Linked DNA regions of Homo sapiens: region 1 is linked to region 2. Evidence: fine-mapped expression QTL. A gene starts in region 2. The other region holds a variant in brackets. All regions are shown on one strand. Distances are between the middles of the regions.

The links. PIP is the estimated chance that this variant, and not a neighbour inherited with it, causes the effect.
Region 1: its variant is fine-mapped to the expression of KIAA0586 in cerebellar hemisphere (GTEx, PIP 0.93).

Annotation. Positions count from the first base shown.
Region 1 is chr14:58,470,565-58,482,379 of GRCh38, forward strand. KIAA0586 reads left to right here. Exons shown (of 31, transcript NM_001329943.3): 17 at 49-159; 18 at 1,635-1,715; 19 at 4,043-4,233; 20 at 6,559-6,677. Among named protein-coding and RNA genes, the nearest start is that of KIAA0586, 49 kb to the left of the region's middle. The variant G/T (reference allele first, on the strand shown) is at 6,520.
Region 2 is chr14:58,423,175-58,434,989 of GRCh38, forward strand. It overlaps KIAA0586, which reads left to right and starts at 4,545. Exons shown (of 31, transcript NM_001329943.3): 1 at 4,545-5,289; 2 at 6,189-6,259; 3 at 7,474-7,543; 4 at 9,214-9,283. The coding sequence starts at 5,091. It overlaps TIMM9 (translocase of inner mitochondrial membrane 9), which reads right to left and starts at 4,357. Exons shown (of 6, transcript NM_012460.4): 1 at 4,218-4,357; 2 at 3,880-4,068; 3 at 834-921. RefSeq lists enhancers at 2,549-3,492, 4,507-4,556, 4,627-4,816.

The sequences.
Region 1 (11,815 bases), 47 kb after region 2:
TTGAGTAAAAATGATAAACAGAAAGCTGAATGTTGTATTCTGTTTTAGGTATTACCCAGTGTAGATATTGACAGCATTTCAAATAGTAGTGCTGATGTCCTTTCACCTCTGTCTAGCCCCAAAGAAGCATCTCTTCCTCCTGTGCAAACTTGGATAAAGGTATATTTCAGAATTTTATCATATTATTTTGAGTAATGTCTGACTGTAGATTTTAACTAATTACTCCATTTAAAGCCTTTTATCATAATGATAACTTATAATAATTTAGATTTTGAAGAAAAGATTGAAAACAATTTTTTTTTTTTCAGTCAGAGTCTTGCTCTGTCGCCCAGGCTGGAGTGCAGTGGTGTGATCTCAGCTCACTGCAACCTCCGCCTCCCGGGTTCAACCAATTCTCCTGCCTCAGCCTCCTGAGTAGCTGGGATTACAGGTGCCTGCCACCACGCCCGGCTAATTTTTGTATTTTTAGTAGAGATGGGGTTTCACCATGCTGGCCAGGCTGATCTTGAACTCCTGACTCCAAGTGATCCCTCTACCTCGGCCTCCCAAGTTCGGGAATTACAGGCGTGAGCCACCACGCCAGCCCAAAACAAATTTTGAATTGTTTATGAACTTGAAAGTTTGTTTCAGATCCTTACATTTATAACTATTTGGAAAGTGATAATCTTTAGTGTAACTTTTTGGTAATTTAAGTTGTGAAACTCTCATGTGAAGAAAGAATTTCTGTCACTTTGGTGATGAATCTTTGATTTACATGGGAATTATAGATATCCTAAATGAATTTTATAGTGACAGTTGGGAGTTTATATTTTGGAATGTTACCTTGTTATCCCACTGTTGACATGATACAAAAATATGCATTTCTTCCTGGCATTTATTTGCTTTTGAATAATGAAGTTATGGCTTTACTACACAGCAAAATAGCACTGTAACTTACCCCAGGTTTTGTTTATTGTAAGCAAACTTGGCCAAGGGTACAGTTTTAAAAGGAGAGAGAATACCAGCAATCTTTCATGATCATAAGTAATGAAATAGAACTGTCCGTAAGTGACATTTGTGCTTAATTGAATTTTTTCATCAGTATTTTTTTTTAACCTTCTGTTTATTGAAACTTCTGTGATAACAAGCAATAAATTTTTGGACTGTTTATCATTCTGCTGTCAGTAAGAGGCTATTGCATGACTACATTTTATATAATGAGGCCTAATGATTAGATTTGTAAAATGACTATTTTGTTTTTTTTCCTGAATTATTTGATTCTGTATCCATCTTCATGTGAGTTCATATATGTTTATACTTAGAGATCTACACATGTAAACACTTTCCTTTATCTTAATTCTGGAAGAGAAGTCTCAATTATATCAACCTGTTGATCAATTAAGTGATATTGCTGATGGAGTCCTTTACAGAAAAACAGCTGATTAATTTTTTAAAGCTATTGAAATGTTGACCTAATGGCTTGGGGACTAGCTTGGATTTCATTTACTAATTAAATCAATTCTGAATAGGGTATTAAAATGATTAAAAAGGACCATGTAATTATAAGCTTATACTATAGGTGGAAATATGATAAATTACTTATAAATTTTAAAAGTGTTAAGCACAACAAAAACTTTCTGAAAATGCTTTCTTAGACTCCAGAAATTATGAAGGTAGATGAAGAAGAGGTGAAGTTTCCAGGAACTAACTTTGATGAAATAATCGATGTCATACAGGTAACAAAGCTTAGAAACCATGAGAAATTATTTTTCTACCGGTATTTTTCCAGGTTGTTGACTATCTTTGGACTATCAATATTATGTTACAGTGCTTTGAGATACTTTCTTTTACTTTTGAGTTAAATATACTTTTAAAAATTATAAAGTTGTTATTCTAGAATGTCTTTAATCTATATCACCTATCTGCCTTCATGAAGCTTCATGATTATCTGCCGTTCCCCACCTAGATTTTGTCTATCTGTTTCCTGCTTTCTTCTTTCTTTCCACTTCCTTTGGCTTCTTTTCCTCCAATTTGTCTTTTTTTCTTTCTGTTAATTTTGGTTTTTGGATTCATGGTGAGGTGACTAGTTAATTGATATTGAGAAAAAAGTTGTGAGAAATCTATAATCCAAAGGAATATCCCATATGGAAGGAAGAGTTATAGAAATGATAGAAATAATGAAATAGAGGGAAAAATAGGTGGAAGTAAATTATAAAGGATGGGACAAAAGATCATAGAACATTGAAACTACTTGACCATTATGTCATTAGACTTTAAAGAACACATTTGATCAAGTTTCTTTGACTTTTAGAGCTAAGATCAGTTTTGTTAATCATAAAATGAAATCCAATTTTAGAATATACAGAGGTGTGCAGTATATTAATGTTATTCGCTCACAGATATGTCTTTTCTCATGTGAGTGCCACATGAGAATTTTGAAGACAGGGACCTTATTTATTTTTATATTCCTAATGCCTAGCAAAGGTACTTGGTAATTGTTTATGCAATATACAAGCGAAAGAAATGGTTATAGAAGTAGCAGAGAATTTAGCATTCAAAGACAAGTGTTCCTGTATTAGCTCTGCCATTTATAAGCTGTGGACTTCATTTTTCAATGGAATAATATTACTGAGTTGTACTATTTAGAGAGACCCAAAGTGTTTTTGATTGAATTATTTATAGATAAAATGATGTGATATCTGTGATTTGCTTCAAAATGATATGTGAAGGGGAAAGTGGCTAGATGAGACAAGATTGACCATAAGTTGATAATTGTTAAAGCTGGGGAGCGGATAAATGCAATTCATGTTATTTATGTAACAGATACAGTACAAGGACACTATTTGTTTACTTTTAAACACATATGATTTTTTTGTAATAAAAACTTTAACAATTCCAGAAATAACTCTATTGGTTATGATGTGGTAATGCAAATAATTTGTAAGATGACTGACCTTATTGCATATTTAAATGTAAATTATAAGTTGTATAAGAGCAAAAAGTGATTTTGGAAGTGTATTAGTGTATTTTGCATTGTTATAAAGGAATTACTGGGTAATTTATAAAGAAAAGAGACTTAAGGCCAGGTACAGTGGCTCATGCCTGTAATCCCAGCACTTTGGGAGGCTGAGGCAGGTGGATTACCTGAGGTCAGGAGTTCAGGACCAGCCTGGCCAAGATGGTGAAACCCCATCTCTACCAAAAATACAAAAATTAGCTAGGCATAGTGGTGGGCGCCTGTAATGCCAGCATCTCGGGAGGCTGAGACAGGAGAATTGCTTGAACCCAGGAGGTGGAGGTTGCAGTGAGCTGAGATCGCACCATTGGACTCCAGCCTGGGTGACAAGAGTGAAACTCTGTCTTAAAGAAAAAAAAAAAGTAAAGAGATTTAATTGGCTCGTGGCTCTGCAGGCTGTACAAGAAGCATGGTGCCAGCAACTACTTCTGGTCAGGACCTCAGGAAGTTTTACTCAGATAGAAGGCTGTGAGGGTCCAGATGTGTCACAAAGCAAGGGAGGGAGCAAGAGAGAGAGGAGGATGTGCCAGTCTCCTTTAAACAATCAGCTCTCATATGAACTAACTTATTACCATGGGGAGGGCACCAAGCCATTCATGAGGGATCTGCCCCCAAGACCCAAGCACCGCCCACCAGGCCCCATCTCCAACACTGGGGATCACACTTCAACATGAGATTTGGAGGGGACAAATATCCAAACCATATCAGGAAGCATCAATTTTTTAACGATAATTATTAAGCATACATTTCTAGAGAGAAATAATAGTGTTTTATGTAGGAATAATTATGTTTTCTAGTTTATTTTGTGATTGCATAAAATGAATATTGGGTTCTAAAAAGACAAACTGATTGTGTAATTAAGGGTTCCTCAATATGATATGTCTGACTAATGTGTATATTATAATTAATGTGATACCACCTAATTAGAAATGCTGTTGGTTAATTTAGAAGGGTTTCTTAATTCACCTAGTTCCTTGCCTATAGTTGGTACTCAGTAAATGTTGAACAAATACATGAATATAATAGTTTTGTTTTTGTTACTACCAGGAAGAAGAAAAATGTGATGAAATTCCAGACTCTGAACCAATTCTGGAGTTTAACAGAAGTGTTAAAGCTGATTCTACAAAATATAATGGTCCTCCATTTCCGCCAGTTGCTTCTACTTTTCAGCCCACTGCTGATATTCTGGATAAAGTAATTGAGAGAAAAGAAACACTGGAAAATAGCTTAATTCAATGGTAAGTTTATAATGTTTTTGGTATGAATAGAACCATAGTAGAAAATATAAATGGAAAGTATTAAAATGTGGCTGAAAATATTCCTTGTCTTCTTTTGTTTATTAAACTTTCTTTGCTTTAGTCACTGGAAAGTGTTTGATATAATGCTGAGGGCTTAACTATTGTTGGAGGTTATTGTTTTTGTCCTTGAATATTTGTACTCAATCTGTCTACTCTGGCACAAGTAGACTATTAGGAAGCCTTAAAAATGTACATGTTCTTTAATCCAGTGATTCATTTCCAGAAACTTATCCTAAAGAAGTAATTATGGTTTGCTGCTAGGCCAGGGCCACGAACCAGTACCAGTCTGTGGCCTGTTAGGAACCAGGGAACTAAGCTGCACAGCAGGAGGTGAGCAGCGGGTGAGTGAGCATTACTGCCTGAGCTCCACCTCCTGTCAGATCAGCTGTGGCATTAGATTTCATAGAAGCACAAACCCTATTGTAAACTGTGCATGTGAGGGATCTAGGTTGCACGCTCCCTATGAGAATCTAATGCTTGATGATCTGAGGTGAAACAGTTTCCTCCCGAATCTATCCCCCCACCCCCTACCCCACCACCCCTGCCCTGGTCTGTGGAAAAATTGTCTACCACAAAACCAATCCCTGATGCCAAAAAGGTTGGGACTGCTATACTAGGCCATATAATACCTAGCACTACAAAGAGGGCACTGTTCTAGGTTTGTTACATACTGATAACAACAAGCTGTAATATGTTATTATTGTTACATATTACAATAACAATTGTAACTTGTTACATATGAATATGAAATGAACGCTATTATTTGTATTTTTACTTGTAAGAAACCTTAAGGAAGTTATGGAATAAGTGAAATGGCTGAATATTAATATAGTCATGAAAATTAGGTTTAGAAGAAATTTAATGATATAAAAAGATATTAATAATGTACTGGCATATAAACAAAGCAGGATACTAACAATGTAACCCCAGTTTACAAGATCTTACTCAAAAGTAAGTAGGCAGCTAGCACAGTGGCTCATGCCTGTAATCCCAGCACTTTGAGAGGCCAAGGTGAGTGGATCACCTGAGGTCAGGAGTTCGAGACCAGCCTGACCAACATGATGAAACCCCGTCACTACTGAAAAAATACAAAAATTAGGTGCGATGGTGCACACCTGTGGTCCCTGCCACTCGGGAGACTGAGACAGGAGAATCGCTTGAACCTGGGAGGTGGATGTTGCAGTGAGCTGAGACTGTGCCACTGCACTCCAGACTGGGCGAAAGAGTGAGATTCTGTCTCAAAACAAAACAAAACAAAAAACTGTGCATAAAACAAAAGTTTGAAAAAGCATACATACCAAATTAACTGTGTTTATTGCTGAACCTAGGATTATAGGTGAGCTTTATCAATTTTTTAAACTCTTACATTTTTTTCTAAATTTTCTACAATGAACACCTATTATTTATATAATAATTTTTAAGAAGTCTATTAACTGCACTAAAGAAATGTTCTAGAAGTCTCCTGTTCCCCTTTCCCTTCCTGAAGATGACTTTGGAAATAAATTTTTTCTTTACATTTTAAGAGGAAAACTACCTATAATACAGCCTATATGTGTATTACCGTGAAGAAAGGGCAGCTGGACATCTTTTCTAGCTCTGATCTGATATGGTTTTTATGTGTGCACTCAGAGTGGAAATCAAACAGTTTAGGTACATGATATGCCAGATAGTCATTGGCCCAAGTCTTATTTTGAGTTTAGGAGTTCTTTTAAGCTTTTCATTAGACTAATCTGAAAGATTTTAATTTGATTTCATAAACTATCTCCCACAAGGAGATTCTGTTTAGTGTGTTTTATCTTCTTCAGAGGTACTTTTTTTTTTTTTTTTTGAGACAGGGTCTCACTCTATTGCCTAGGCTGTAGTGCAGTGGTGTGATCACAGCTCACTGCAGCCTCAACCTCGTGGGCTCAAGCCATCCTCCCACCTCAGCCTCTTGAGTAGCTGGGACTACAGGCACGTACCACCTAATTTTTGTATTTTTTGTAGAGACAGTGTTTTGCCCTGTTTGCCAGAATGGTCTTGAACTCCTGAGCTCAAGCAATCTGCCCAACGTGGCCTCCCAAAGTGTTGAGATTACAGATGCACCATGATGCCCAGCCCATTTTATTTTTTTTCTTCTAGATTTAACTTTCAGAATGACTGCTTTCACACCAACATGTTTGTGGCATTGGTAAAGGTTATTTTTAGGGGTGGTATGTCTAACATTTTTTACATTTCAATCAAATT[G/T]AGGAATCTTAACTTTTATCTGCCCCACCATCCTCTCAGGGTAGAGCAAGAAATAATGTCAAGAATTATCTCTGGGCTCTTTCCAGTCCAGCAACAGATTGCACCTAGTATCAGTGTTTCAGTCAGTGAGACAAGTGAACCACTGACTTCTGACATTGGTAAGTGAAATAGAATTTTTTTTTGTTTTTATTAAAAGACAAAAGCTTTAGTTCATCGTGGATTTATATATTCCAGAGGTCAAGTAAATTCTCCAGTAACAAAAGGTAAGCTCTTCTAACCTTACTTCTTAGTACTTCTTTGGTGATGGTTAGTTCTCTCTCACCCTCTTATTTCATATTGCAGCTTTCAGATTATTAAACCACTCTTCATACCTCCCACCCCAAATCTCTTTGTTATCCCCATAGTACTTTGTACATATTTTTGTTATAGTAATTATCAGATTATATTAAGGTTGGTTTCCATATGTACCTCACTCTTTATACTATAAATTACTCAGGATTTAAGGATGTTTCTCCTTTTGTGCCTAGTCCTTGCCTGATACCCAACAAGAGTTTAAGTATTCATTGAATGGTTAAAATGAGCCTCTTTCTTTATGGAGCCTATGCCATTCTTTTCTCCATTTTTTTCTTTTCTTCCTTTCTTTATGGTGCCTATGCCCTTCTCTTCTCCATTTTTTTCTTTTCTTCCTCTTCTTTTTCTCCTTCCCCCTTTTCCTTTTCTTCTCCTGCTTCTCTTCCCGATTTTTTCTTTTCTTCCTCTTCTTTTTCTCTTTTCCCCTTTCGCTCTTCTCCCCATTCTCTTCCCCATTTTTTCCTTCTCTTCCTCTTCCTCCTGTTTTTCTTCCTTTCCACCTCCTCCTTGTTTTTTTGAGGTAAGTTTACTTGCCATAAAAGTCACCACTTCTAAGTGTACAGTTTGACAAGTTTTTTGTTTGTTTGTTTTAATTAGAGCCAGGGTCTCCCTCTGTCATCTAGGCTAGAGGCTGGACTGCAGCGACATGATCATAACTCACTGTAACCTCTAACTCCCGGGCTCAAGCAACTCTCCTGCCTTAGCCTCCCAAGTAGTTAGGACCATAGGTGTGCACCACCATGCCCAGCTAAAAATCATTTTGGGTCCAGGCACACAGTGGCTCACGCCTGTAATCGCAGCACTTTGGGAGGCCAAGGAGGGCAGATCACCTGAGGTGAGGAGTTTGAGATCGTCCTGGCCAACATAGTGAAACCCCGTCTCTATGAAAAATATAAAAATTAGCTGGGTATGGTGACACACACTTGTAATTGCAGCTACTCCGGAGGCTGAGACAGGAGAATTGCTTGAACCCAGGAGGCGGAGGTTGCAGTGAGCCAAGGTCACGTCACTGCACTCCAGCCTGGGCAATAGAGCGAGACTCTGTTTCAATCAGTCAATCAATCAGTCAATCAATTTGGTAGAGATGGGGTCTTGCTATATTGCCCAGGCTAATCTCAAACTCCTGGCCTCAAGTGATCCTCCTCCCTCAGCCTCCCAAAGCACTGGGATTACAGGAGTGAGTCACCGCACCTGGCCCAGTTTCACAAGTTCACACAGCTATATATTAGCCACATAATCATGAGATAGAAAAACATTTCTGTCTTCTCCAAAAGCTTCCTTATGCCATTTTGCAGTCAATTCCTAAACCTCACTCGTGCCCACTGGCCCCTAACAACACTGATCTGCTTTCTATTACTGTATTTTTACCTTTTCTAGAATTTCATACATATGTAATCATGCAATATGTAGCCCGTTGTTAGCTGGCTTCTTTTATTAGCATAATATTTTGACAATCATGCTATTGCATGTAGTAATAGTATAATGTATAGATATACCATAATTTGTCAATCCATTTACCAGTTGATGGACATTCATAGTCTTTCAGTTTTTGGCTATTATGAATAAAGCTGCTATGAACATTTGTAAGCAAATCTTTGTGTAGAAACCTTTTAATTTTGGTTGGTCATATGATAAGTAAATGTTTAACTTTATAAGAAACTGCTAAACATTTCCAAAAGTGGGTGTACTATTTTGCATTCCACCCAGCAGTGTATGTGACTTTAGTTGCTCCACATCCTCCCCAACACTTGGTGTTGTCAGTGTTTATAATTCTAGCCATTTCTGAACATATGTGGAGGTATTTCCCTAACTATACTAATACCTGAGTAGTATAATTATTAATGATGTACAACTTTTTAATGTGTTTATTTGCCATCTGTATATTTACTTTGGTGAAATCTCTTTAAATCATTTGACCATTTTTAAGTTCGAGTCGTGTCTTCATATTACTGAGTATGAAGTTTTTTATCTATTCTGGATACAAGTCCTTTATTGGATATATGTTTTGTAAATATTTTCTTCTACTTTGTGTTTTGCCTTTTTGTTTTCTCAGCATTATTTTTTGAAGACAAAAAGATTGATTTTGAAGAAGTCTAATTTATCAGGTTTTTTCTAGTAGTTTGTAGGGATTTTTGCATGCTGCTTTTAAAAAAATCTTTGCTAACCCAAGATCATTAAGATAGTTTCCTATGTTTTCTTCTAGAAGATGTATGGTTTTAGATTACACATTTAGGCCTATAGTATATTTTGAGTTAAGTTTTATGGTGTGAAGTAAGGATCAAGTTCTTTTTTGTTTGGGGTTTTTTGGCATATGGATATCCAGCTGTTCTAATACCATTTGTTGAAAAGATTATCATTATTCCATTGAACTACCTTAACACCTTGGTTGAAAATCAATTGGTTATATATGTGTGCATCTTGTTTTTGGACTTTGTATCCTGTCTCATTCACCTGTAAGTTATACTAATACCATACTTCTTGATTACTGTAATTTAATAGTAACACTTGAAATTGGATAGTGAAAGTTTTTCTAACTTTGTTCTTTTTTTCTTTTTTATTCCTGTTTATCATTATCTCTACTTTTTTTCTTCTTTCCAGCCTCAGGATAAGCTATTCTTTCTCCCTCATAGACTATCCTTTAACAGCCCGAATCCTAGACTTCAGAGTCTATATTCACCACTTTAATTTCTCATTACCTACTTCCTCTTTGGTCCTTATAGGTTGGCCTTCTTTTGCCCTCCCCCTCAAGAAACTCCTTTCTCACAGCATTTGCTTGTCAAAAATGTTTCCCTTTTTCAAATCCTTGTTTTACTGTATGGCTCAAGCATAGGCACTATTGACCATCTCTGATGCTTAAACTCTTCTCCTGGTGTTGGCTGCTTAGACTTCATTCTGTTAATTCTTCCTCTTTTAAAAAAAAAAAAAAAAAACTTCTTTAAGACCTTCATTTTCTCATTTTATTTTCTGCTACTTGAATAAAATTATTTCCCTAGTTCCCATGCTTTGCCCTCTTTTCTGTTTTCTTCCAGTTTCCTCCTGACATTAGTTATCCTGTGTCAGTTGATGAACCCTAAGCCATGTATTTGGGCCGACAACTTGCAGTTCTGCTGGTTGATGAATATTGTGCTTGATGCTCCCCTGGCATCTCATCTTTAGTATGTCTAAAATTCTTCTCATTTTTGAGATCACAGTTCTCCCAGCACCCAATCTCTAAAGCCTTGGAGTTATTATTTGTTCTATTTTCTTTGCTTTGCTCTTCTTCATTCCCCACTCAGCCATACCCTATATCCCAGCTTCATAGAGTTTATTGTTGCATTTGGCTAATTTGTCCTATTTAGCATAGCTCACATGCCTCCTTCTGTTGTTACTATCCCAGTTTTCTCTCGTCATCTCATCTTTGAAGGGAGGACAAAAATAAACAACAAATTTATGAGAAAATTTTTTTCCTGGTGAAAATCTGACATTTTACAAATTGGGTATTTAGATCCTGTTTTCTTCCCTGTCAAAGATTTGTGTTTGCTTTTGTTTTGCCAGTGTCTGGGTAGGGATTTGGGACCTTATAAAAACGATGTTCTGATTTTGGGCCATGCTCAAAGAATGAATTATGGAAACTAAAAAGGAGATGTATCAACATATATTGTTGAATATGAATTTGGGATTGGGATAGTCTCTGCTATGGTAACTCAAGAGCAAATTGCTGTTACTTACCCCGTCAACAAGTGATCCCACTAGACGTCTACCCACTTTTTAGGGAATTCTGGATATTGTTACTATAGTTGTGTTACTTAAGCAGTACTCTTTGGTGAGGTCACATCTCCATCAGGTTGTACAAATGAGTATCCACTTATTTTCCGCATGGAGCTTTATAAATATCACTACTTTAAGTCAAGTAAAGTCTCTCCAGGAGATTTTACTTAATTTGATGTACATTCATGTAAGTGAGAAGTACAACCCATTCAGATATTAATATACCTATAGGACATCTGATAACAAGCACCTCAACTGCAGTAGATGTTAATAACTGATGTATCTGAAACTAGAAGGAAGGGAGGTTTGCCTTTATATTTAGTGCATTCTTTTGTTGTAGTCAAGATCTATCACAGAGTTTCCTGTTGTTATACTCTTGGAAATGTGAGTTGTATTCAGATGAGGGCATTTAATGTGCCCATTTTTATCACTAAATTCTGTAGTAGTAGAGAAGAGGCCATCTGAGTAAATTTTCATCTCCCTTTTTTTTATTTACAGAGAATATTTGTTATGTAAGTTGTCCTCTTAGTCTTTTTCATAATAAGTAGATACATTTGTATTTTCATTTTTATTCCTCTTTCCACCCTCCCCCACCCACCCCCATACACGTATATTGGCATCTCTAAACTTTGTTTTGTTTTGTTTTGTTTTTGACAGAGTCTCACTCTGTTGCCCAGGCTGGAGTGCAGTGGTGCGATCTCAGCTCACTGCAAGCTCCACCTCCTGGGTTCACGCCATCCTCCTGCCTCAGCCTCCCGAGTAGCTGGGACTACAGGCGCCTGCCACCACACCTGGCTAATTTTTATATTTTTAGTAGAGACGGGGTTTCACCATGTTAGCCAGGATGGTCTCAATCTCCTGACCTCATGATCCACCAGCCTTGGCCTCCCAAAGTGCTGGGATTACAGGCGTGAGCCACCGTGCCCGGCCGGCATCTCTGAACTTTTAAGAATGAAAGTTCGGCCCAGGCGCAGTGGCTGTCGCCCGTAATACCAGCACTTTGGGAGGCTGAGGCAGGTGTATCACCTGATGTCAGGAGTTCAAGACCAGCCTGGCCAACATGGTGAAACCCCATCTCTACTAAAAATACAAAAATTAGCCAGGCATGGTGACGCGTGCCTGTAGTCCCAGCTATTCAGGAGGCTAAGGCAGGAGAATCGCTTGAATCTGGGAGGTGGCAGTTGCAGTGAGCCAAGAT
Region 2 (11,815 bases):
TCTGCTTAAATCTCTAAAGCTATCCTCGGTAGTCACCAGTATCTATCAAGATTACGGTATAGGCCAGGCACAGTGGCTCACACCTGTAATCCCAGCACATTGGGAGGCCAAGGCGGGTGGATCATTTGAGGTCAGGAGTTTGAGACCAGCCTGGCCAACATGGTGAAACCCCGTCTCTACTAAAAATACAAAAATTAGCCGGGCATGGTGGCACATGCCTATAATCGCAGCTACTCGGGAGGCTGAGGCAGAACTGCTTGAACCTGGGAGGCAGAGGCTGCAGTGAGCTGAGATTGTGCCACTGCATTCCAGCCTGGGTGACAGAGCGAGACTTTGTCTCAAAAAAAAAAAAAAAAAAAAAAAAAGATTATGGTATACATAATTGTAGGCAACTGGTTCAGAGAAAATACTGGAGATGACTGAGTAAATCAATGATTTTCAGAGTTACTTGCTAATTTGAGGTCTTCTAAATTTTTCACTATTCACTTCGCAGTTATTTAATAGTAAGCTTAGACTAACAAATTCCACCAGCCACATAAACCACCTGATGGTGAGAACAGGTAGCAGTAATGTGGTTGTTCTTTTATTTGATCCTAGTTTCCATATATTACAGCAAATTTATGTTACTGTGGCAAAGACCCATCAGGGGTTACCTTCTGATTATATCCCTGAAACCTGGAGAGGGAGAGAAGAAATAAGCAAATTCAAGAATCACTGGCTTAGATCTTGGGAATGATTACAATGATGCTGTTATTCTTGTGGCAAACAAAATATATCCTAGAACCAGGGAACTTAAGAATAAAGGGAGATCTTATCAGTCATCAAGCTCTAACCTTTTCTGATGCATGAGTTTCCTTTCTGTTCTGGAAAAGTAGTTGTCCAACCTTTGCTTGAATGTCTCCAATAAGGCCTGATTCTTACCTGAAAAATGAGGTAATATGATTACTAAGTCCCCTTCAAGTTCTAATAGTCTTTTCAATGAAATGTAAACTTCTATTGGCTAATCATTTATTTTTTTAAAGTTTCTTCCTTTTTAGTAAGTGAAATTAGTTTCCTCTATTCTGAGGTTACAATTCTTTGGCATATGTGTTACTATTAAAAAAAATACTTAATGTCATGCTATCCTTATTTATCCAGGTATAAGTATACATTACACTTCCCTTATGATTTTCCTACTAATTCTGGGAGGGATGGTTCAGAAATCTTAAGAAACTTACATGAGGTCACTTATACAGATAGTAACTGGACAGCTGGAGCCTAACTAAGGTCTTTGGACTTCAAAATCCAGTATTTTCCCCATTGCACCTATAAAATGACCTATTTAAGACCTATAAAATGTCTTATAAGCTATTATGACACATATCATCTATCTAAAAATATTTTCCAAATAGCCAAATATATGTTATAAGCTAAGTGACTGACCAGGTGCAGTGGCTCAATCCCAGCATTTTGGGAGGCTGAGGTGGGTGGATAGCTTGAGCCCAAAAGTTCTACATCAGCCTGGGCAACATGGCAAAACCCCATCTCTACAAAAAATACAAAAATGAGCCGGCATGGTGGTGTGCACCTGTAGTCCCAGCTACTCAGGAGGCTGAGGCAGGAGGATCACTTGAGCCCAGGAGCTTGAGGCTGCAGTGAGCCATGATCACGCCACTGCTCTCTTGCCTGGGTGACAGAAAGAGACCCTGTCTCAAAGAAAAAACGTATAAGCTAAGTCATAAAACCTAGCATCACAAACATGGGTGCCAACATTAGGTATTTCTTGGTGGGATGCAGTAAGACAGCATCACCTATGTGGTATTCTGGCCAAAGTTTGATATGGCTCTAATCATGAGGGAATAATTAGGAAAATCTACAACATGGAACAATTTGTAAGACAACCTGGCTGGTCTTTTCAAAAGTGTCAGTCATAAAGAAAAGGGGTTGAGAGGGCTGATTTAGAGTGAGAAAATAAGGCCAGGCATGATGGTTCACGCCTGTAATCCCAGCACTTTGGGAGGCTGAGGTGGGCAGATCACGTGCGGTCAGGAGTTCCAGACCAGCCTGGCCAACATGGTGAAACCCCATCTTTACTAAAAACACAAAAATTATCTGGGCAGAGTGGCGGGTGCCTATAATCCCAGCTATTTGGGAGGCTGAGGCAGAAGAATCACTTGAACCCAGGAGGCAGAGGTTGCAGTGAGCTGAGAAAATAAGCCTGGGCAATAAGGCGAGACCTAGTTTCTACAAAAAAGTAAAAAATTAGCCAGCGTGGTGGCAAGTGCTTGTAGTCCTAGCTACTCAGGAGGCTGAGACAGGAGGATTGCCTGAGCTCAGGAGTTGAAGGCTTCAGGGAGCTATGATCATGACAGAGCAAGGCCCTGTCTCTGGAAAAAAAAAAAAAAAGAGGGAAAGGAACTAAAGAGTAATGACAAAGAGCTGTAAGATCCAAATTAAGTTGTCATTTTAATAATTCAGAGTGCCTACACTCAGATCTTAGGTCACTGTTTCTTTCACATAAGTTTCACCTAGAAGGTAAGAGTTAAACTATCTCCAAGGTCTCTGGCGACTCTGACATTGTAGTTCTTTCAGTACACTCATAATATACAATAAATTGTGAACAAACAAGTACCACCTATGAGCCCAATTACGAAGAGAAAATGTAACTAAAATAAAAAATAATGGCCACGTGCGGTGGCTCACGCTTGTAATACTAGCACTTTGGTAGGCCGAGGCGGGTGAATCAAGTCAGGAGTTCGAGACCAACCTGGCCAACATGGTGAAACCCCGTCTCTAATAAAAATACAAAAAAAATTAGCTGGGCGTGGTGGCGGGCGCCTGTAATCCAGCTACTCAGGAGGCCTGAGGCAGAAGAATCGCTTGAACCTGGGAGGCGGAGGTTGCAGTGAGCCAAGATCGCGCCACTGCACTCCAGCCTGTGCCACAGAGTGAGACTTTGTCTCAAAAAACAACACAAAACTCATTAGAGAAACTCAGCAAGTTACAAAAAAATAATAATTAAAAGGGTCTTTAACGCTGAGCCCTTAAAGTCTTTTTTTTTCTTTTTTTTTTAAGACAGTCTTGATCTGTCACTCAGGCTGGAGCACAATGGCGCGATCTCAGCTCACTGCAACCTCCACCTGCCGGGTTCAAGCAATTCTCTTGCCTCAGCCTCCTGAGTAGCTGGGACTACAGGCGCGCGCCACCATGCCCAGTTAATTTTTTGTATTTTCAGTAGAGGCGGGGTTTCACCTTGCTGGCCAGGCTGGTCTCGAACTCCTGATCTCGTGATCCGCCCGCCTTGGCCTCCCAAAGTGCTGGGATTACAGGCGTGAGCCACCGCGCTCAGACTTTAAAGTCCATTTTAAGTCTAGACTTCTATGAAGGTAGACTGCCGAGATGTAAAAGAAATAAAATTAGTTATTTAGCTTTTAGATCGGATTACATTTTCTGCTTTGATTATTCTAAAGCCTCCAGTAAGGCGTAAAGGGAAAGCTCTAAGTAGCGCATCCTGGGAAATGAGCAGATCAGGGAAGGGGTGTTAGACCTGGTATTATGTCTAAAGACGATTTTCATTTAAAGGAGGATCTTCCCCCGGGCAGCTCAAGGTCACATCGTAAATACCTTATAGTCTAATTCAGTGTCCCAAAACAGGACCCCGACTCCCCAGATCCGGGTTGGGGGTGGCTCAGGGCCTAAAGTTCCTACCCTCGCCCAGGTGACACCATCTCCAGGAAGGTCTGCACCCGACCCGGCGAAGCGCTGTCCCGCTTCGCACCCCCCACTGCTCCAGGTACGTGCGGCGGCCTCCTCGGGAGACCCCGCCACTTTCCTGGAGCGTAGCCTGCCACCCCCCGTCCGGGAACCCCGGATTCTCACGGCAGAGAACAGACACCATACTTAAGCACAGGCTCTCGCATCCGACATCAGTACAAGGCTGGGGGTTGTTGGGGGACGGTTGAGCCTTGGGAGGGAGGGTCAGGGTCTGGACAGGAGCCGCGGCCGCCAGATGGGAAAGAACACGTGGGAGCAGTAATGTCAAGTGACACTTAAACCCTTAGACGCCGATTCGTTATAACGCGAGGAAATCTAGAAGAAAAAGCAGGTACCATCAGCGAATTCTAAAATCTCCTAAGGATTAACTTCGGTTATTTTCTGCTTAGACAACGCTTTCTATTCCCGACTTCCTCTCCAATAATGACCCGAATCTGTCGAAACTTCTTGGAAGCCTAATTTACCTAATCCCACGTCCCTAACGGTCTTCGGAAGCGAAGCAGTGTCAACAGTCCCTGGTAAACACAAGTAGTATTACAAGTCGGGAGCTCTTCAAGTCTTGGATGAGACTGTAGAGCGGTCTTGTGCGGCAATGTGCTACCTTAAAATAAATAAATAAATAAACCCCTGTTATGTCCGGAGTTTGTTTCCACCCGGAGAGGAATGGAAGAGCACCAGAGAGCGCTTAGCTTTCTGGTTGGATGTTTTGGGTGAGTTTCTTGGCGCGCATGCGTGTTGTGTCTCAAGGGCGGGTTTGAAGGGAAGTGGGTGTTGACCTGCGGGCAACTGACGCTGTTGTCAGATTACACCCACGACGGTGCGGGTCTCGGGCGTTCTGGAGATACGTAGGGGTGAATTTATGTTTCCGACGATTGCATCTGGAGGGGTGTGTAAGACTCTGTGGCTGAAGAAAGCTATTACGCTTCTTATGTGGGTCATTATTTTAAAAATAGCATTTCGCTTTTATTTGCTTGACTGCCTCTTCTCAACAAATTTTAAGCCCGCCACTACATGTGTTTGGTTTTGCCCTACCAGCTCTGGGGTTGGGGAGTGCACTGTTATGGTTATTGTTGCTCCTGTGGCCATTCTCTTGTCATCCCCACTTTCACATTTTGGCGTGGTGTATTAATAGACTGAGTGGGATTAATGGGTAAATATGACTTTATAGTCAGCTCTAATCCTGGATTCAATATCAGAATTTAGATTTTCAGCTTTGTGGATGTTCGACATTTTAAAAACAGTTATTGCAAAGAGGTGAAAATTTTGTTCTGAAGTCTTAAGGAAACAGAGAAAGTTTTTCCGTCCTTAAGTGTGGGACTTGTTTTGTGACCAACAATATGAAAGGCTCTGAGGTCAGCTTGGAGAAGAAAAAAAAGATTAAGATGCCAGTGAAGAGACTTCGTGAGGTAGTTTCTCAAAATCATGGAGATCATTTGGTTTTGCTGAAAGATGAGTTGCCCTGTGTTCCTCCGGCATTGTCTGCAAATAAACGTCTTCCTGTTGGAACGGGGACTAGTTTGAATGGAACATCACGTGGTATGTGATTCCATGTAGTTTTTCAACCAGTTTTAGTTTAGTAAATCTTTAGTCCTTATTTGTTTAAATTCCCAAACGTAAGATATAAGTCTAGTTTGTACAGATGTTTGAAAACTGACCCTGTTTCCCGGGAAAATGGCCAGGAAGCCTATAAAATGTTTGAATAGATGGAATGAATGAAACTTTAACGTCCCCTGTTGTGCTTTTTTTTTTTTTTTTTGCATTGACTTTTGCATATTTTTTTTTTTATATTTATGGTGGATACACTTAACTTGTATAATGTGCTTTATTTTCCCCCACGTAGTGTTTTTTATAGTTTTCCCCCAAAGTAGTGCTTTTTACCTAATTCACTACTTTCTTTTCATAGTGGGAAAAGCAGGACTTCTGCCAATTGATGGCTTCTATATTCCAATTCACTTAATCTGTCTAGAGCTCAGTGAAAATAAGGATAACATATGCTTTACCCACTTCGCTGCTAATTGTGAGGATTAAATTAATGAATATGTGAGCAAAAACAGCAAAACGCTTTTGTAATGCTGTTCTTTGGGGGATACAGCGGTGACACTCAAATAGTACTGCTGTTAAATTAGACCTTTACATCGTATACATATTTCTACCCATAGTTTGTCCACATCCAATAGTGTATGGTTATATTTTAAAATGTTTCGTGCTTAATCTCACTTTATTGTCAGTACCGAACCTTATTTTCCCAAATATCAACTGTAAAAACTTTCATTCAGATATGTTTAAATACATTTTCTTAACTTTTTTTGCATGCAAATTGTCTTTCCAACTTCTGCGTTATATGGAGTTTATAGATCTTGAATCATGCATATACAGTTTCTAAAGCTAAGGATCTGATTTTAAAATCACTAAAATCTATTCCTTTGTTTTGTTAGGTTCATCAGACTTAACTTCTGCTAGAAATTGTTACCAGCCTCTATTAGAAAATCCCATGGTGTCAGAAAGTGTAAGCAAAAGGATTCTTAATTATGCTCACGTTAAAATTTTCAGTATTGTCAAATAATGCATTCTTAAATTATGTTTGATTAGCAGCATGCCTTGTTTTTATTTAAATATCACTTACCAAAACAAATGTTTTATATACTACAATTGTGACTTTGAATGGTGTTTGAGACATTAAACAAAAGGCCTTCCCTAGAATCAAAAATACCTATTAGTAAGATAATGGCCGCTGAAAGAGATAGGATAACTGAAAAGAAACTCTCTTACTATTCAGGGAAAAGGTGTTCTTGCCCAGAGACTTAACATGTTCTTAGGTAAAAGAAAAGGAACAACTAACAGTACAATTTTTCTTTAATGTGAGGTGTGCTTGCATGTCATTCTAACACTTGTGAGAATGGTTTTGGTTTTCTTAGAAGGGAGGTTCTTTAAGAATAACATGAAATTATCATCTTAACTTTATAATGCCGAAAGTATTTGATAAATACAATGTTTTGGTTATGAGATCTAATCAGACTTTGACGGCTAATCATAGTGTTGACCTATGTATTGTCAGTTTAATAAGTCTGTATAATGAGAGTTTCACAATATGCTATTTTGAAAATTGAAGCTGGCAAACTAATAATTCAATTGAGACTATATGACAATTTTGTCAAAAGCTCACAATAAAATGTATAATTATTTGCTGTACTTGATCCCTAAGTAAATGCCTAGACTTTGGAGTGTTTTTTTGTTGTTTTGTCTTTTTTTTTTTTAAGCAGGCCTTATTTAATGATATCTAAACTTCTCAAATGTATGGATACACTGTTATTGTATAATTGAGAATAAATGGGTGATCTTCGTGATGTTGTGCCATCCTTATCTACTCCATTTGACTCACAGTGAGTCAGATTTTCACATTTCACTGAAGCAACTGAGATGTTAAATGACTTGCTCTGCTACAAGTGGCAAACTGGTTTGAGTCTGAATCTCAGTGCTACATTTGCTTGCTGGTTCATTTACTCATTCATTCACTTGTCTGATAGTGTATTACTCACCCATTCAACAAATCTTTGAGTAGCTTTAAGGTACATCAGAATTGCATGATGATGGAAATGAAGAATATGAAATACACAGTCCTGCCCTCCCAGAACACAGTAGTCACATAGCTAGTAAACGGTTCTTGATAAATAATAAATCATGAAGTTTATTTAGCCTATTTCTTCCTTTCATATCCCAAAGGATTTTTCTAAAGACGTTGCAGTGCAAGTGTTGCCTTTGGATAAAATAGAAGAGAACAACAAGCAAAAAGGTAAAAGAATAATATTGATTTTTTTAAATTGTGACAACATATACATAACATAAAGTTTACTACTTTAAAATGTACAGTTCTGTGACAGTAAGTACATTCACATTGTTGTACAATCATCATCACCTTTCATATCCAGAGCTTTGTCATCTCTCCCAACTCTACCCATTAAACACTAACTGCTCATTTTTCATCCCCTCAGCCCTGGGCATCCTACTTTTTGTCTCTATGAATTTGACTACCCTAGGTACGTTATATAAGTAGAATCATATAGTATTTGACCTTTTGTGACTGGCTTATTTCACTTAGCATAATGTTTTAAAGGTTCATCCATGTTGTAGTATGTGTCAGAATTTTCTTCTTAAGGGTAGAATTTATTTTTAAACATTTATTACGTAGTCTTATAGTTTTTATTATTTTCATTTTAAATTAGTTTTTCTTCCCAAATTAAGCTATCACTAGAAGCTATAAAATCCAGAATAAGGTTTGCAATGGTGAAGGTTATCTTGTTATTACCAACCTATTGCAGAGGTTTAGTATTAGATATGTTTATAAATTTTTTTTTTGAGACGGAGTCTCCCTCTGTTGTCCAGGCTGGGGTGCAGTGGCGTAATCTCAGCTCACTGCAACCTCCAGCTCCCGGGTTCAAGCAATTGTCCTGCCTCAGCCTCCTGAGTAGCTGGGATTACAGGTGCACACCACCACACCCAGCTAATTTTTCTATTTTTTTTTTGTAGAGACAGGGTTTCACCATCTTGACCAGACTGGTCTCAAACTCCTGACCTCAAGTGATCTGCCTACCTCAGCCTCCTAAAGTGTTGGGATTACAGGCGTGAGCCACCGTGTCTGGCTCCATATGAATTTTAAAATAGTTTTTTCTAATTCTGTGAAAAATGATGTTGGTAATTGAATAGGAATTGCATTGAATCTGTAGATGGCTTTGGGCAGTATGGTCATTTTAACGATATTGATTTTTCTAATTCATGAGCATGGAATGTTTTCCACTTATTTGTGTCATCTGTGATTTTTTTCATCAGTGTTTTATAGTTCTCCTTGTAGAGATCTTTCACCTTCTTGATTAAATGTATTCCTAGGAATTTTATTTTTTGTGTGCCGCTGTTGTAAATGGCATTGAGTTCTTGATTTCATTCTCAGCTTGAATGTTATTAGTGTATAGAAACGCTACTGATTTTTGTACGTTGATTTTGTATCCTGAAACTTTACTTAAGTCATTTATCAGATCTAGGGGCATTTTGTAGGAATCTTTAGGGTTTTCTAGGTATAGGACCATGTCATCAGTGAACAGAGGTAATTGGACTTCCTTTTACTTTTTGGATGCCTTTTCTTTCTTTCTCTGTCTGATTGCTCTGGCTGGGACTTCCACTACTGTATTGAAAAGAGTGGTAAGAGTGGGCATCCTTGTCTTGTTCTAGTTCTTAGGGGGAATGTGTTCAACTTTTGCCCGTTCAGTATGATGTTGGCTGTGGGTTTGGGATTATGAGGATTATATTATTACTTAATCACTTAATTTGTTCCTTGTCCTTTTCGATCGTGGAATGCTATGGCTGAGTTCCTAAACATTCTTTTAGTTAAAAAAGATTTTTTTAGTAGCTTATTAAAGTTTAATAAATATTCAGGAATTTAATATATATTTTTGTGTCTTGATTTTGCAGCAAATGACATCTTCATTTCTCAGTATACAATGGGACAGAAAGATGCTCTAAGAACAGTTTTAAAGCAAAAGTAAGTTTCATTTACAGAAAATAATTGGACCATTTCTTATGTAAATCAGCTTCATTTGTACTTTGGACATATGAAAAACCTTTTCACTATGTGAAATATATATTGTGTGATATGTATAAAGCATTTCTCATGGTGCTAGACACGTATAAAATACTCAGTAGCAGTTAGCAGTTATTATTATGGAAGTGCTATAGTATTAACTCATTTAACACACTTATAAAATAGATTTACTATCCCAATTTTATAGAATCCCCATTTTCTTTTATTTATTTATTTATTTAGAGATGGAGTCTCGCGTCGCCCAGGCTGGAGTGCAGTGGCACAATCTCGGCTCACTGCAACCTCTGCCTCCCAGGTTCAAGCAATCTCCTGCCTCAGTCTCCCAAGTAGCTGGGATTACAGGCACCTGCCATCATGCCCAGCTAATTTTTGTATATTTGTAGAGATGGGGTTTCACTATGTTGGCCAGGCTGGTCTTGAACTCCTGGCCTCAGGTGATCTACCTGCTTCGGCCCTGCAAAGTGCTGGGGTTACAGGCGTGAGCCAGTGCGCCCTGTGGTTAATTTAATTTTGCGTTAGAATCTAAGGAAGAGCCACACTTTACATTTGAATGATATGTCTCTTAAGTTTGTTTTTGTTTTTGTTTTTTTTAAGACAGGGTCTCGCTCTGTTGCCTAGGCTGGACTGCAACCTCCACCTCCTGGGTTCAAACAATTCTCCTGCCTCAGCCTCCTGAGTAGCTGGGATTACAGGCACACACTACCACGCCTGGCTATTATTTGTATTTTTAGTAGAGATGAGGTTTCACCATGTTGGTTAGGCTGGTCTCAAACTCCTGACCTCAGGTGATCCGCCCACCTTGGTCTCCCACAGTGCTGGGATTACAGGTGTGAGCCACCATGATCAGCCTTCAGTTTGTTTTAATCTACAGATTTACCCTTATTTCGTTTTTCTTATAATTTGTTTGTCTTAAGAAATTTTCTACCTTCTGGATTTTGCTGAATGTATCCTTTTGTTGTCTTTAACATGTTTCTTTCAACCTTGAATTTCTGTCAAGTGGCAAGAATGCTTGATAGGTGATATTATATACTTCCTGTGTAATACATCGGGATACATAGATATCTGATTTTATCTCTTATTGTGAAATTAGGATTGATCTGTTAATACACCACCTTTTTGTATCAAATTACAGCATATGGAAATTTGAGGACAAAGAGTCTAAACAGTCAATTTTAGAAATTTAGCAGGAAAATAATTTCTTATAAAAGCTGAAGGAAGCTGGGCATGGTGGCTCATGCCTGTAGTCCTAGCACTTTGGGAGTCCAAGACAGGAGGATCACTTGAGCCCAAGAGTTTGAGACCAGTCTGGGCAATATAGCTAATTTTTTTAAATTAGCCAGATATGGTGGTGTGTGCCTGTAGTCCCAGGTACTTGGGAGGCTGAGGTGGAAGGATCACTTGGGCCTAGGAGTTTGAGGATGCCATGAGCCATGTTCATGCCACTGCACTCCAGCCTGGGTGACAGAATGAGACCCCGTCTCATCAGAAAAATAGGGAGACAGACAGACAGACAGATGCTGAATGATAGGAAAAAAGCAGGGAAAGCAGAAGAAATCAAGTATACCAGATAAAAGAAAACATAAACACAGTAGAATGTTTTCAACTAGTTCTAGAAGTACGTCAGTGTAATAAGCAAATCTTGGACAAGTCTAAGTCAGAAAACTGGTGAGAGAATGCATGTTAGAAGTAAAAAGAGGACATAATGATAGACTTAGAAGGTATTAAGAATACAGTGTATTAAGAATACTGTGTACATGAATGCTACAAATTAAGAAATCTAGATGAAAGAAATAACTCACCAAAAATAACCATATAACTAAGAAGATTTTAATAGGCCAGTTACTGGGAAATAAATTTAAAAAAAACCTTCAAAGAGCAATCTCCAAAAGCAGTCATGATTTTGTTTGAGTTCTTGAAAAATTTTAAGAAACAGATTATGATCATGCTATATATTCTGCTCCAGAGCAATGAAAAGCAAAGAATGCCCCTCATGTCATTTTATGATGCTAACCTAGCCCAAGTATCAACACCTAACAATTAGTTTCATCAGAGATATTTTCATCATGCTATTGTAATTTAAACAAACCTAGTTCTTTAAATAAGTTATGAGTAAATTATATTTTATCATATGTTAAAAGATTAATACACAGTGATTGGAATGCAGCAATGTTTTAAAAATGGTAATAGCAAATTCTGATGTAACACTTATGCACCAGCCACTGTCCTCTGCACTTCTTTATTTTTGTTTTACTTTCTGTTTTTTATTTTGTTGAGACAGGATCTCGCTCTGTCACCCAGGCTGGAGTTCATGGGTAGGTTCACGGCTCACTGCAGCCTTGACCTCCCAGGCTCAAGTAATCCTACAACCTGAGGTCCCCCTAACCGCCCCCCCGCCAGAGTAGCTGGGACTACAGGCATGTGCCACCACATCCAGCTAACTTTTTTACTTTTTGTAGATATAGGGTCTCACTA